Regions from separate parts of the Homo sapiens genome. Here all the other regions are linked to region 3. Evidence: fine-mapped expression QTL. Tissue or cell type: whole blood. Region 3 holds a variant in brackets; each other region holds the start of a gene. All regions are shown on one strand. Distances are between the middles of the regions.

Evidence for each region. PIP is the estimated chance that this variant, and not a neighbour inherited with it, causes the effect.
Region 1: ZC3HAV1 starts here. The variant in region 3 is fine-mapped to the expression of ZC3HAV1 in whole blood (INTERVAL, PIP 0.91).
Region 2: it holds the start of IFT56, and the variant in region 3 is fine-mapped to the expression of IFT56 in whole blood (INTERVAL, PIP above 0.99).

The regions. Positions count from the first base shown.
Region 1 is chr7:139,106,596-139,111,746 of GRCh38, reverse strand. It overlaps ZC3HAV1 (zinc finger CCCH-type containing, antiviral 1), which reads left to right and starts at 2,027. Exons shown (of 13, transcript NM_020119.4): 1 at 2,027-2,723. The coding sequence starts at 2,416. RefSeq lists enhancers at 1,919-2,078, 1,871-2,374, 2,319-2,418, 2,999-3,128.
Region 2 is chr7:139,131,567-139,136,717 of GRCh38, reverse strand. IFT56 (intraflagellar transport 56) reads right to left here and starts at 2,940. Exons shown (of 18, transcript NM_024926.4): 1 at 2,858-2,940; 2 at 1,926-2,063. The coding sequence starts at 2,860. RefSeq lists enhancers at 2,924-3,103, 2,821-3,115.
Region 3 is chr7:139,187,619-139,192,763 of GRCh38, reverse strand. IFT56 (intraflagellar transport 56) reads right to left here. Exons shown (of 18, transcript NM_024926.4): 18 at 778-3,443. The coding sequence ends at 3,332. Among named protein-coding and RNA genes, the nearest start is that of UBN2, 41 kb to the left of the region's middle. The variant G/C (reference allele first, on the strand shown) is at 3,094.

The DNA.
Region 1 (5,151 bases), 81 kb after region 3:
CAGTATGTTGCCCAGGATGGTCATGATCCTCCCGCCTTGGCCTCCCAAAGTGTTGGGATTACAGGCACAAGCCACTGCACCTGGCCCTTAAATCATTTTTCATGGCTTCAAATTGGAGGAGATTCTATGTCTGTACTCCCAACCACTGTAGCCAAACTAGACTCTTCAGTCTCTCATCTTCTATATTCCCATTGTGGCATTTACCCATGAATTTGCTTATATTTCCATGCATTTTTTCATGTCTTCGCATACATGCTCCTTGAGTGCAGGGACTGTTTTTTAAACTTCTGCATGTCCTTACATTACTAACTAATGTAAATACCACATAGAAGATAGTCAATAAACATCTAGAACTTAGTTGATTTGATAATAAAAGGTCCCTGGGAACCTGTCAGACCACAAATAAGGCCAAGTGGATTAAAAGACAACTATAGAAGCAGCAACTAGAGGGAACAAGATGTCCCTCTTAGACATCCTAAGATGATCCTATGTGGCCCCCATGTTTGGCTGGTTTTCATAACAAAGTACTCTATTCCTGAAAGAGGGTTTATATACCATGAATGACAAAACTGAGGAGAATTCTCATTAATCATTTTGAAGAATTTCTAAGTTAGCAACCAGAATCTATTATTTTTTAAAAAGATGTATTTCTTATCTGATCAAATGACCCATCTATTTTATTTGAAGATGTTGGAAAAAAAAACCTTTTTTCTCTTCAACTTGTGTCCTGTCTTTGGGGGCCTAAAAATTAACTGGCACTAGACAGATAAATAGGAGAAAAGACAAAGTTTATTTACACATGCATGCAGGAGCTTCCAGTAACAGAAAACTCAAAAGTAAAGGTTTATATACCTCAACTTAACAAAAAGGAAAGTTTTAGGGCTTCAGTAGGAGAGTTTGGAAGTTTTGATTGGGTTGTTTTGTGTTTTTGAGACAAAGTCTCAGCGCTATCCCCCAGGCTGGAGTGCAGTGGCACAATCCCGGCTCGTTGCAGCCTCCTCCCGTGCTCAAGCAATCCTCCCACCTCAGGCTCCCGAGTAGCTGGGACTGCGGCTGCACACCACCATGCCCGGGTTGTTTTTATTATTATTATTATTATTATTATTATTATTATTATTATTATTATTGAAGAGAGCTCACTATGTTGCCCAGGCTAGTCTTGAACTCCTGGGTTCAAGCAATCCTCCCACTGCCTCGGCTTCCTAAAGCGCTGGGATTACGGGCTGAGCCACAGCACCCAGCCCATTGGGTTTTTTGGTGCTAATGGTAATGGGACAGTCTGTCTTCCTGGCAGCTGAATACTCCGAGAGGCTTTTAATGGCACCATGTTTTCGGGAGGTTTTGCTTTAGTCAGATAAGGGAAGTTTCATTAAGATTTCTTTCTACATCTTCTGTAGCTCAATGTTTTCACTTAAAAACAATCTTTATGTCAACTCTGGGGGTCAAAGTACGTCCCCACGGTGGAAAAGTTCTTGTCCCAATCTCTACGGGGAGGAACCGATCTGAAATCTTGGGATATGTCTTAGCATGTCCACCGTGATTGAGGTACAAGCAGTGGTTCAGGGCACCGAGTTAGCGATTCTAGGTAAGCAAGACCATGTCAAGAAGTGGTTTGTCCAAAAGTTCGTGAGAAGGCAGAAACGAGGGAGAGTGGCAATCGTTGTTCTTTAAGAGGGCACGGTGGTGGAGGAGAAACTTGCACATCGGGGCCTGGGGTACCACGATCTGGGGCCTGGGGACGCGATTTGGGGAAACTCGGTGGCATCTGGGCTCCGCTTGATGCCAGTGCGTGTTCGTGCAAGTTACTTCCTCAAGTTCAGGGTGAGGATAATAATATCTACCATGTGGAGTTGCTGGGAAGATTCACTACCAACAGAGGCAGAGCGCACGGCTCGCAGGAAGCGCTCGCTAGGGTCTGCTCTTTCCGGGAATGGGTGGGGTGCGCACTCCTCAACAGGGCTCTCAGGACTTGCGTCACACGCCTCAGTCGGCTGGCTTATAAAACACCGGCCAGAGCCCCAAGATCGCTTTTAGTTTCTCTTCTTTCTAAAGAAGGCTCGCGGAGCCCGGCTGGAGAACCTCACCCTCGCCGAGCCTAGAACCGAGAGGGGGCCACCCCAGGCGGTCACCAGCAGATTTGCCCGCGCGTTCTCTTTCTTTCCACCCAGTTGCCCTTGCGGCCGGCTGTAAACCTGCCACTAGGACCCGGTCGGTGAGATCTAGCCTCTTGACCTGAGAGCCGAGAGTGGATCGCTGGGCTGGGCTAACGGCGACGGAGAGCGCGCCCTCGCTGACTCCGGGCGCGCCCAGCAGTAGCACCGCCCGCGCCCGCCCCTGGACACTTGTAAGTTTCGATTTCCGATTTCCGCGGAACCGAGTCCCGCGCCGCGGCAGAGCCAGCACAGCCAGCGCGCCATGGCGGACCCGGAGGTGTGCTGCTTCATCACCAAAATCCTGTGCGCCCACGGGGGCCGCATGGCCCTGGACGCGCTGCTCCAGGAGATCGCGCTGTCTGAGCCGCAGCTCTGTGAGGTGCTGCAGGTGGCCGGGCCCGACCGCTTTGTGGTGTTGGAGACCGGCGGCGAGGCCGGGATCACCCGATCGGTGGTGGCCACCACTCGAGCCCGGGTCTGCCGTCGCAAGTACTGCCAGAGACCCTGCGATAACCTGCATCTCTGCAAACTCAACTTGCTGGGCCGGTGCAACTATTCGCAGTCCGAGCGGTGAGTGCACCCGGAGGGAGGGGCGCTGTCCGCAGCCGTGGTCGGGGTGGACTGTCCAGGCGGGCAATGTTCTGGGAGGGGCACGGCTTCGCCGGGACCCCGCACCTGACAGCCTCCGCCTCCAGCCACTCCCTTCTCTGCTCCCCTCTGGGAGCCTCTGCAGGGCCCGCGCTTCTACCTTTGCAGTTCCCTTCCTTCCGGCACCTCCAGACATTTTCTCGAGAATGGCTAAAATGCTAGTGCCTGGAGGAGACCAGGCTCAACCTCCACCCCTTTCCCCGCCCGCCCGCACGAATCAGAAGAATAAAGTGCTCTGGAGCCAGCCAGGGCCTAGAGAAGCGGTAGGCAGGTTTGGGAAGGAAGGAAAGAGCCTCCCGTCTTTGGTATCTTGAGTCTTTCCCTCCCTACTACCTCCTTCCCTAGACGTGGCGGAGCCAGTAACCCAGCCGCCCTGGGCCCCCGGTCCGTCTCCGCCGGAGCGAGCCGCAGGTCTCTCTGCTTGTCCCTCCCTTCCCGGTCACCCCCATGCCCCTCATCACCGCTTTTCTGATGCCTGGCGCGTAGCAGGGGTGGCCCTTTTCCAGGTTCCTGAAGTTGTAGCAGCCGCGGGCCTTCCCTCCGGGTGGTCTCTCTACGGTGGCGCGCGCAGTTGACCGCCTGCCTTGGGACAACTCTCTTAAATCCCTTTGAAGCAGTGTGGCTCACGTCTCGGGCCACTGCTTCTGTTGTTTCCGTTTGCCTTTTTTTTTTTTCGTCTAAATGCAGATGCGCTGCAAGGTTTGGGTTAAGACTCTTGAGTGATTTTCTTCCCAGTTTCTCCCTAAGAGAGCTTGCTCCCTCGAGGACAGCTGCACATCTAAAAAGATGGCTTCCAGGTCCACATTCGCTGCCCAGGCCTTTCCCTTGATCCCAAGCCCTTCCTCTCCCGCGTGTGTCCTGTCCATGGAGTCAAACTCATCTTTTCCCCCAGGCAGGGTTTTAATCCTCCTCACAATCTGTCATCACCAAGTCCTTTTTGTGAAGTCTCTTTCCCTTCTTGGCGGATTCTGCCTTCCCATCTAATTTCTGAATGAACTGAATGAACGCCTTGTTGAATTAATGAATGGCCAGTCTTTCCTCCCACCCTTTCTGTCACTATGTGCTCTGCTCAATTACTTTTCTCGATACAGTACTTTTTACACTTGGCCCATTCTTAAACACTTTGACTTGTGTCCCAGGGTTTAAAATGGTTGTCAGCAAACTTTTTAGGCTGGAGTGCAGTGGCTCCACCTCGGTTCACTGCAACCTCCACCTCCCAGGTTCAAGCGATTCTCCTGCCTCAGCCTCCCGAGTAGCTGGGATTACAGGCATGCACCATCGCACCCGGCCAATTTTTGTATTTTTAGTAGAGACAGGGTTTCACCATGTTGGCCAGGCTGGTCTCGAACTCCTGACCTCAGGTGATCCACTTGTCTCAGCCTCCCAAAGTGCTGGGATTACAGGCATAAGCCACCAAGTCCGACCAGTCGGCAAACTTTTGATCACGCACCTAACAAAAACTCCAGTCACTCACCCCCAATATACGTGTAATAAAACACACAAAGGTAAGTGTTTTAGATGGATGAGGTAGAGGACGCAATGTATTTTTTTAAAAATTTCTTTAGAGCAAAAACCCTTTCAGCTCACTCTAACGTTTTTAAAAAGTGCTTGAATGTGTTCCTTTATTTAAAATTTTCTTTAATATGTTGTGGGGCAACAATTTGAAGGTTGTTTCTGAGTTGCTGGGAGTTATGGGTATCGAGGAAATCATCTAAGTCATTGCTGGTCACTGAAGAAATCTCTGAGAAGGAGAAGAGAGCAGAGGGTGGAGGATAGAAAAGGAAGGAACATTCTAGCATGTTCTAGCACTACACCAAATAACATGGTTGGAAGGCTTTGTTATGTTTTTTCTGTTCTTATCTTTTCTATTATGACAAATTCTTCACCAACTAGTGTTGATTTTTAGTATGAAATACATATGCTTTTTATTTTTTTATTTCTTACTATGGATATTTTCAACATACTCAAAAGTAGAGAGAAAAAAATGATGAAGCCCCTTGTACCCATCATTTCAACAGTTTTGAAAATATGGCCAGTTTTGTTTCATTTATTCTCCCTATTCCCCATGTGTCCCCAACTCCAATGTGTTATTTTAAAGCAAATCTCAGCAACCATTTGATTACTAAGTACTTTAGTATCTCTAAAACATAAGAACTATGTTTTATTAACATAATACAGTACAATGATCACATTTTTGTAAAAAAAATTACAATTTTAATATCATCTATTGTCCAGTTGGTATTCAAATTTCCCTGATTGTCTTATAAATCCAACTTTTATTTTCAGGGAAAAGGATACATAGACATAATCCTTTTAAAAAAAGATTTTTTTAAAATTTTTTGAGATAGGG
Region 2 (5,151 bases), 56 kb after region 3:
GCAGGAGGATCCCTTGAGCCCAGGAGTTCAAGACCAGCCTGGGCAACATGGTGAGACCCCTGTCTCCACACACACACACAAATAGCCAATCAAACGAAAATTAGCCAGGTATAGTGGCACGTGCCTGTAGTCTCAGCTACTTGGGAGGCTGAGGTGGGAGACTCGTGTGAGCCCTGGGAGGTTGAGGCTGCAGTGAGCCACCATCACGCCACTGCATTCCAGGCTGGGTGACAGAATGAGACCCTGTCTCAAAAATAAAATAAAATAAAGGCAACCTGGTGTTATGCAACAAGGAAAATGTGGTCATTGTCTTAGAGAAAAAAGAGGAAAACAGACTGATGAAAATAGATATATACATAGCACTCAGTCCACTGATTCACAGAACTAGAAGGTTCTTCCATGCCAACTCCCCCACTGTAAAGATGAGAAAGCTGATGCCCAAAAAGCTAAAAAACACGCTCAACACCAGAGTACTTAGTAAGAAGGCAAACTAGGCCGGGCGCGGTGGCCCACACCTGTAATCCCAGCACTTTGGGAGGCCGAGGCAGGTGGATCACCTGAGGCCAGGAGTTGGAGACCAGCCTGGCCAACATGGTGAAACCCCATCTCTACTAAAAATACAAAATATTAGCCAGGTATGGTGGCAGGCACTTCTAATCCCAGCTACTCAGGAGGCTGAGGCAGGAGAATTGCTTGAACCAGGGAGGTGCAGGTTGCAGTGAGCTGAGATTGCGCCATTGCACTCTAGCCTGGGTGACAAGAGTGAAACTCCAACTCAAAAAAAGAAAAAAGAAAAAAAAAAGAAAGTGAACTATTTGTGGAAGATGGAGAAATATATGTAAACCTAATTATAACAATTATTAAGGGTAGATTCAGAGTAATATGGACAGAGTAGCATTTTAAGAGAAATGAGTGTGGTACAACACAACCAGACCATGCTGTCAGAACTCTTCATTCTTTGGTGCAACCCTTCACCCTCCTATAACATGTGTTTCCCACAAAGCAGTTTTTTAAAGCACAGTCTCCTGGGACCATCTCCATCAGAAGCACTTAGACTACTCACCTTAAAATGCAGATTCCTGAGCACCTCTGCAGACTTACAGCAGGAGCCCAGGAATCGATATCTTATTAAGTACCCTAGGTAATTCCAATGTATATTAAAAGGTGAGAACTACTGCCATGGAGATTTGAAATATTTTCTGGGGCTATATTTTCAACCGTAAGCATGTTAGAATTATTTAAGTTTGATCAAAATTTTAGAACACATAATAGGAAAAAATCATACATTGGTCAAGGGTTGGGATAAGCAATGTGTGAAATGACATTGTATAAAAGGTCCCTTCATATTTTTAGATTGTAATCACTGTTGGTGAACTAGACATACTCAAAAGTGGCCCTCAAGAAATAAGTTTTGTTTTGTTTTTTTTTTTTTTTTTTTTTGAGACGGAGTCTCGCCTTGTAGCCAGGCTGGAGTGCAGTGGCATGATCTTGGCTCACTGCAACCTCCGCCTCCCGGGTTCAAGCGATTCTCCAGCCTCAGCCTCCCGAGTAGCTGGGACTACAGACACGTGCCACCATGCCCAGCTAATTTTTGTATTTTCAATAGAGACGGGGTTTCACCATGTTGGCCAGGATGGTCTCGATCTCTTGACCTTGTGATCTGCCCGTCTCGGCCTCCCGAAGTGCTGGAATTACAGGCATGAGCCACCGCGCCCGGCCAAGTTTAGTTTTTTAGTTCGTTTTTTATCAGGTTTATAGCTAACTTGGAATCTGGAATCTGTGCCTGACTAGATTTACAGGGGATTTGTACAGGAAGCCCCAGAATGCACCCACCTATTTCAAGAGCATAGCAAACAGCATTCACCCAAGCATTCATCTACAGTCTGGTATTCATACACTAAGAAGCAACGTTCTTTGGGCATTACCTCCAACAGGGTAATAGCTCCAGTGAAATCTCTTTTTGAAAGTAGCTCCTCTAGTTTTGGAATCTTCCTACCTTTCTTCTTTCTTTTGTCAGTGTGCTGTACGCCTCTGCCTACAGCAGGTTTGGCCCTTGAAAGCATCTGTAAAAGAAACAAAGACAGCTGTATGGTCCAATTCTGATTATCAGATTTAAACTGAGAGTGACAGCTCTGTAATTTATAAGTCAAGGCCGGGCACAGTGGCTCATGCCTGTAATCCCAGCACTTTGAGAGGCGAAGGCGGCGGATCACGAGGTCAGGAGTTGGAGACCAGCCTGGTCAATATGGTGACACCGCATCTCTACTAAAAATACAAAAATTAGCCGGGCGTGGTGGCATGCGCCTGTAGTCCCAGCTACTCGGGAGGCTGAGGCAGAAGAAACGCTTGAACCTAGAGGCAGAGGTTGCAGTGAGCCAAGATCGCGCCACTGCACTCCAACCTGGGCGACAAAGCGAGCCTCCATCTCAAAAAAAAAAAAAAAATTATAAGTCAAATCCTTAACAACGAACCCCAGGGAAGCCTATTCAAACTCGTTTTGTAACAGGTATTCTACTAGAAGAGCCATCAGCCAATACTTAGGAAGGACCAAACAGCTACTCCCAACTTTTATCTTCTCTGGCTAGAGATGCTTTCGCATTGCTTCTGTCATCTCAGCTTTCCCTTCCTCTGCTTCCCATCCCACGAGTGGTTTAAATGTGAGTAAACGGAAAAGCAGGAGGGAAGAAAGCACCGAGGTATTTACAGTTGCATCCCTGTCCCCCGTGGGAACACAGGGAGAGCTGGGGATTACTCTCTGCGGACACACCTAGACTTCACACAGAAGTGTGCTGGGAACCTCTAATCGCCAGCCTCAGGACCTACTCAAAGTACTCCCTTACTATTCAGAGCCACTAACCATCTTGACGTCGGTCTTGTGAGTCCCCACCACACAGCGAAGGCCGCGCCTCAGCGTTTCGCCGCATCCACACAGCACGTTCTGTCTCCACGGTAACCCCGCCTGGACGCTGGTACGAACGGGAGAAAAGCTCGTTGGAGAACCAGCGCCCGCGGCTTCTTGGTTCCGTGCAGCTTCTGCCGCGGAAGAGCCGAGGTTCCTCTTGGGAGGAGAGCGTCGTTCTCTGGGCTGAGAGCGAAAGTTTGGTTGTCTCTATTTATGAGTTTACTTTAGGAAAAGGCGAATTGGAATGGCATTGTTTTTCAAATGCAAGTTTTCTGGGAAAGAAATTTTCAGGGACCACTTCTGTTTGGGGCCGTGTTGGACTCCATAGCAACCCTTGACTATGTGCACCGCAGAATCTTGGTCTCTGGCTGGTGCGGGAAGCTTAGAAAATTTCTGCTGAAGGAGTTGTAGTTCTGTGATTTGGAAGCAGGAGTGCACCAAAATACAGTTTCCTATTTCCACAGATACACCTACACACAATAGAGAACTGTAATAAATATTTGTCGATTGGATGACTTAATTTATCTATCTTACTCCTGAACCCAGTTAATACAGGGGCAACCACAGTCTTTAAATTCACGAAATCGTGGAATGTTAGAGTTGGAAGGGACCTTACAGGACCTCTGGTCAACCCCTCAGAATTAACAGACTGAAGAACTAACATCTTGTTAGTTAACTAATGTCAGCCTAAAATAACCAAAAAGCTCAGGGATCCAGTTGAAAGAGTTTATTCAAGTGCAAAGTGTGAGGGCGGCTATCCCGGGAACCACTGACAGCAAAGAATGGTGATCAGTGCTCCCTGATGCAGGGAAAGGTGAGGGTCATTTATATCACCAAAAACAGGAGTGCTGTACGTAATTACAGCATTTTCTAGATGAGGCTAACGTACACAGAAGATTCAATTCACTACTATTGATTACACTGTAAGGGGGTTGTTTAATATTCTATTGTAAAGAGGTAACAATCACAAGGGTCTCTATCTCCAACGTCATTTAGTCTGAATAAAGAATAAAAAATCTGGTTAATATATAACATCAACACAAAGATCAGGAAGCAACAGTCATGCACCAGAGAAGAAAAACAGCCATGTTCTGTGATTTAGTTTACAGGGCTTAACTTTTCCCCTTGGCATAGTACGTTTGGAAAGTGCTGAAATTTTCTTTTCACATTTTCCCCTTTTCTTCAAAAGCTTTCAGAGAAAGCATTATAGAAGAATTATATTCTCAGGCCGTGTATTTGATCAAACCTCATGTCACTAGGAAGGCCCCTTCCTGGCAGTCACATCCCAGGGAGGAGGGGAAATTGGAAAGGACCAAGTCCGAATTATAAAGCAACAAGAGAAAGTAGTTCTGGAACCTGATTCAGGCTACACGGCTGCCTCTTCAATCAAACAATTCTCTGAGTAGTCTTTGTTCTACACATTTTCTCAGCTGTGTGTTGACCCAATTGCAGATAAATACCATAACAGCTCTGCAGACAAAGGCAAGACAAAACACAAACTATGATAATTCCTAAAATACATAACAGCTTTTGCCACCAAGTTCCCCAAGATCCAAATCAATTACTTAACCAGTAGCTTAGAGAGGGTTTTGGATCCGAAAGGTTAATTATTAGAGTTTTTCAAATCAGTTATTAATTTGGTGACGTTATTTGATTCATCTGGGATATAAACACAGCATTCAGTTTCTGTCATAGCACAGATTCCTCCTTGGGCTGCAGTGAGTATGTCTAAGACCATACAGTTTTGTAATACAGTCTTCTCATGACAGTAACTTCATTATTTAATAATGAGACATTCATGTGGCTGTTATTTAGGGCCTTTTGTGTGTAATTGGTTAGGGCCTGTACATGGCAAATGACATCTTCAATACACAGTTGTGGTACAAAGACAGAAGTGAATCTAAGTGGCTTCTGGAAGGTAAGCACTTTCTATTTCTTCTGTTAAAGACACTATTGCGTAAACCTTTACAGTAAGTTCCAGATTCATCCTTTAAATAACATGCGTCTGTAAACCAAACAACATTAGCCTAAGTAAGAAAAGTCTCTTGCAGATCAGTCCTAGGAGAAAACAAGTTTATCAGTTAGAGTTATGCAATTGTGTGGTGTTTCATCTGAAAGTGAAGGAAGAAGAGTTGCAATATTTAGCTTGTTACATCTAGAGATGGTGACATGAGAAGCTAAAAGAAGTGAAACTTTCTATGAAGTTAGTCTACTCATTGAATAACGTTGAGTGTGGTTCAAGTTTAGCA
Region 3 (5,145 bases):
AAGTAGATGTAACTATTGTGATATCATGCCTGTTTGCTAGCACCTTTCTGAAAGTGCACTAAGCCACAGAGGAGGAAAGCAGTCCCTTGGCTTCCGTCTACTTGGATGCATGTGATGTGTGTGGCACACATGGCAGAGCTGTGGGCATCTTGCTAGCTGTTGAGCTTTGGGATCCATTCTGATTGCTTCTCCCAAATGAGGCAGGGGGCATCTCATTTACACGGATACAAACATTCCATTGCCTTCTTTTATTGCTCAATACTTTATTCCCACTGATGATATCAATCACGTTGTTGTGTTTAGTTGTGTATACTTCTGTTAGAGTTCCTTGAGAGTCAGGCCTGTGCATTATTTATCTTTGCAGCCCAAGTACCTGGCATATGCTTAGCACACAATAAAATAATAATTCAATGGGAACTGAATATATGAGGTTAGACTTCACAAGTCACTTGCCCTACCAGTTACTGTATGTTTAATTATTCAGTCAACAAGTATGTGAGAGCTTTCTATGTGTGAGGTACTACACTATGCACTGGTCATATAACTTCTGAATGGGCTGTAATTCAGCAAAGAGCCAAGCCTAGTATGATTCAGCAGGAACTACCAGCCTCTTAGTGGAAAGGGCTTCTTGGGGAATATGTACTTTTCTCTCTTCTAAAGAGTAACTTATGGGGCCCAAAACTTTCTCTCCTTTCATTCTAGGGCTAGGAAAGAAAGGGTAGAAGGCACATGACATACTTAGGTCCCACCCTCATCACACTCAACAGAATATCATACTAAGAATCAAATAATAAACTTTAATTTGAATATAATACAGTAGAATATAATAATTATTTTGAGGTACAAAAATAATTATAAAATACTTTTCCCATTTGCAAGTAATGTATGCTATAGACTATAAATAGTACACTGATGCCAGAAACTGTACATATTTCACTACATGCCTAAGTCTGGGTCTTCCTCTCTCCTCCATCATCACATGTAAGAAAACCAGCTATGCAATACTACTTTGCAATCTTGAAACTCTGTTAAGACATTTCAGAAGTAGCTATCTTTAATAAAAGAATTAGATGGTACCTTTCTTTAAAATAGTATGTATGTTTTTTGGCTCAATCCTATAGATGAAAAAGTTTACAAAAATTAGATTTCTGCCATTTTTGGAATATCTGCTTTTTTTTCCCAAAAGACAGGAAAATGTCAGAGAGAATCTAGAGTGCTGAATTCAACACAAGCTCATTTGAAAGTAAGTCTCCATCAATGGAAAAGCTTTTTGACTATAGGCAATTTGAAAATAATAGCAATTCACTGGAAGACAAATTTCACTGCCAAAACCTGCAGACGAGTTCTCCCTGTCTTTTCTATTACTGTGTTTCCTAATATTTTAAGTGAGGTAAGAATTACAAGAGTGATTCTAAAAATTATAGCAGGTTCTACCCAGATGGGACCCATCTAGTTCCTAAGATGCTGAGAGCCATTTATTATTTAAAAAGTAGGAACAACATGAGGAAACAGAAGCTTTGGCATATGAAAAAAGATGTAGCTTTGCTTCCTAGAATTCAGTTATTTAGGCCAGTTTATTTTGATTTGTGCTCTGAACTGATTATATATGGGTCTAAAGATAAAAGACAGAAAAACTGGCCATCCTCATGAGTAGAGGTGAAATAACCCCTTGAGACAGTCCTGAAGGTGAAGGAGATCTTCAGTCATCGATCTCTTCTTGGCTGCTTCCACTCCTGCCATTTTCTCATCTCCTTTCTATACAACTCCTTCATCCACAAGTGGAGTGCTGGGATAAATGGAACAACTAATACAGTGCCTACGGGGATTTTCCTGACTTCAGTGCTTGAGGAATTCTTTCTTTCAGTTCTCTTCCCATCTATTCTCTTCTAGGTAGGGATGGCTCTGCACTTTCTAGACCTGTAACACTAGGTACCTTAAACTAATAGAAAAAAACTATATGGTGTAAAAACAAAGGTAGTATAAAACATAGAAAGATGTGGGTCTCTTTTCTGGAAATAGGTTGTGAGCTTAAGAATGCTCAGTTGTATGTTATAAGAGCTCAGAAGCCTGGGGCTGGAATATGACTTACGACAGAGAGCCTAGCCATTAGGAGATTCCCTCAAAGGACTTTATACGATTCATGTTTTATTATCGTTACATTAATAAGTGCCCACAATACATATAAATCACTGTAGCCCTACTTTCAAAACTGATGTTTGGGCCAGGCGCGGTGGCTCATGCCTGTAATCCCAGCACTTTGGGAGGCTGAGACGGGCGGATCACGAGGTCAGGAGATGGAGAGCATTGTGGCTAACACGGTGAAACCCCGTCTCTACTAAAAATACAAAAAATTAGCCGGGCGCGGTGGCGGGTGCCTGTAGTCCCAGCTACTCAGAAGGCTGAGGCAGGAGACTGGCGTGAACCCAGGAGGTGGAGCTTGCAGTGAGCCGAGATCGCACCACTGTACTCCAGCCTGGGCGACAGAGCGAGACTCCGTCTCAAAAACAACAACAACAACAACAACAACAACAACAACAAAAACTGATGTTTGTTAAGCAAGATACATTAACAAAAACCTAACCTGCTTTGTTACCTAAAATAATTATGGTACCAAACTATAATGGACTAGTGAGATTCATAAACATTGTTTCTTGAATACCTTTAGAGGTACTACAATTTTTTTCATAGTACTCACCTTTTAAAACATTGCAATACTCATCTTACTGCGCTGTAACATGTTATTATCATCAACAATTTAATTACTGAAAGAGTAATCCCATAAATCTATCCTATTAATGACTGGACAGTTTGATAAAGTAGCTTACTGCCTTTCTTAGAAACACATAGCTAGTTATTCTCCCAAGATTCAGAGATGACGTTATAAAACCCTTTATGGAATTCCCCAATAAAATGGGATAACGTACAGAGACGCCTTAAAGTTAAATGATACAATGATGCTGATTCTTGAACATCAAAGATGTTTGTTATTGCAGCCAGGAGACAATGCCATAAAATGCTAACAAAAAAAAGTTATACTGTTTTCCTTAAAGTCAGTAAATTGCATAAAAGTACTCTGAGCATTTTTGGAAGAAA[G/C]GCACCAGATAAGTCCAAAATCTTATTGCTACTAGGATCATACAGGGTCACAGACTATGGCACTCTGTTCAGCCAGGAGACTAAGTCTCAGCAAGTCAGTCTCTGACCTTGAGGCTTAAAGAGCAAGGAAGGAAAATGTCAATAAAACAGAGCCCTGTATCACAGATTAAACTGGAGTGAAAATGATTTCCAGTTTTATGTCAAAGTAGAAGCTGGTTCCTAGGACGCTGGCGCTATTTTAGATGGACACTCTGTTTTCTTTGGCCCATTTCTTCATGATCCGGATCATGTATTCTACTTGGGTGTTACCTGTGCTTCTCAGTAAATGGAGCACTTCTCGAAGGGTCTCTCTGAGGAAAAGATTTGAAAAGACAAAGTGTTTCAATGAAGAATGAAAATTAAAAAATAAAATAAACTCTGAACTGTCCTTCATACTGTATGTCTTGTAGGGCATTTTTGGTAATAGACTCTTTCACTGTGTATTCACAAAGCAATTACAAACTGCCTAGCCTTATGTTCTTATTGTGGCATAGTAAAATGGAAATTATGTGAAATCTTTCTTGCCAATCCAAGTGTTCCTTGTTTATCCATACTACCTATATACATACTGATAATCTTTTTGTCCTTTCTGAGATGACCTAACTATTCCCATTTCTATTCTTATTCTGCATGACTAGAAAGAGTATATCCAGAAGTTGGGGTTCAAGTTCTAGCTCTAACACCAGCAAGTCACTTAATTTGTCTAACTCATGGATTTCTCCCTTGTTTAAGGTGGTAACCACCTTCAACTAGGCATCATTGTCAAATTCATAAAATTTTACAAAGCCAAAGGAATAAGGGATTTTTTCAAGAAAAATAATACATGAATAAAATGGAAGAGATGGACATTAAGGACTAAGCCTAGCATTTATATTTGAAGTAATTTAAATTTAATTAAAATTAAAACATATTTTAAGTAATGAATGCTAAAATTTCCTTATTGCCCTAGCAAATCTGTAGGCGACTGCCTATGAACCTATTTGCTTAAGAGTCTTCTCATATTTTCTACTTCTTTTTCCCCACAAACAACCTCTTTCACCTAACCAAATGTTTTTAAACTTTTACTTAGAACTAGAAGTACTATAAGGTAGGAAGTAATTTTTGATAGATTATTTTCTTACAAAATTAACACATTTCCTATTCATGTATCAGTAATAAATACATTCCATGAAGTTATTTTTAGAAAATGGAATCGAGTTGTGTTTTAATGTTTGTTTCAAATGAAACTATAGGCTGGGCATGGTGGCTCATGCCTGTAATCCCAGAACTTTGGGAGGCTGAGGTGGAAGGATCACCTGAGGTCAGGAGTTTGAGACCAGCCTGGCCAACATGGTGAAACCCTGCCCCTACTAAAAATACAAAAATTAGCCAGGCATGGTGGCACGTGCCTGTAATCCCAGCTACTCAGGAGAGTGAGGCAGGAGAATCACTTGAACCCGGGAGGCAGAGGTTGCAGTGAGCTGAGATCACACCATTGCACTCCAGCCTGGGCAACAGAGCAAGACTCTATCTAAAAAAAAAAAAAAGAAAGAAAGAAAAAAAAAAAGAAAAAGTATAAACCACTGAATTTTATTAATTTTATGTAAACTAATGTCTCAGTATTTCCTAGAATATGAGAAGGTGAAAGAAAACAAAAGAGTTATCAACCACATCTACTCCATTCCTAATTTTTTGAGACCTAAACTAAAGCACACAAGAAAAAGCCAATAGGCAAAAAACAAAAAACAAACAAAAAACCCAAAAGAGTAGAAGAGTAAAAAAAAAAAACACTTTGCCTATAAAAATGGCTGTTCATTTGGAACCAAATATACATCCTGCTCTTATATTTGGAGGCTGTTAGTGTACTTAATGTATATATGACTTAGAATGATCTGATCCTATTATATATGATTTAGAATTATCTGATTCTACAAAATGAAAGATTTCTGGAGGAAAATGGTCAGACAGAAATATTTAATATCAACCTTTTTTTCATCATTCTAAAACATCATTATAATCATGTGTTTTCAGAAG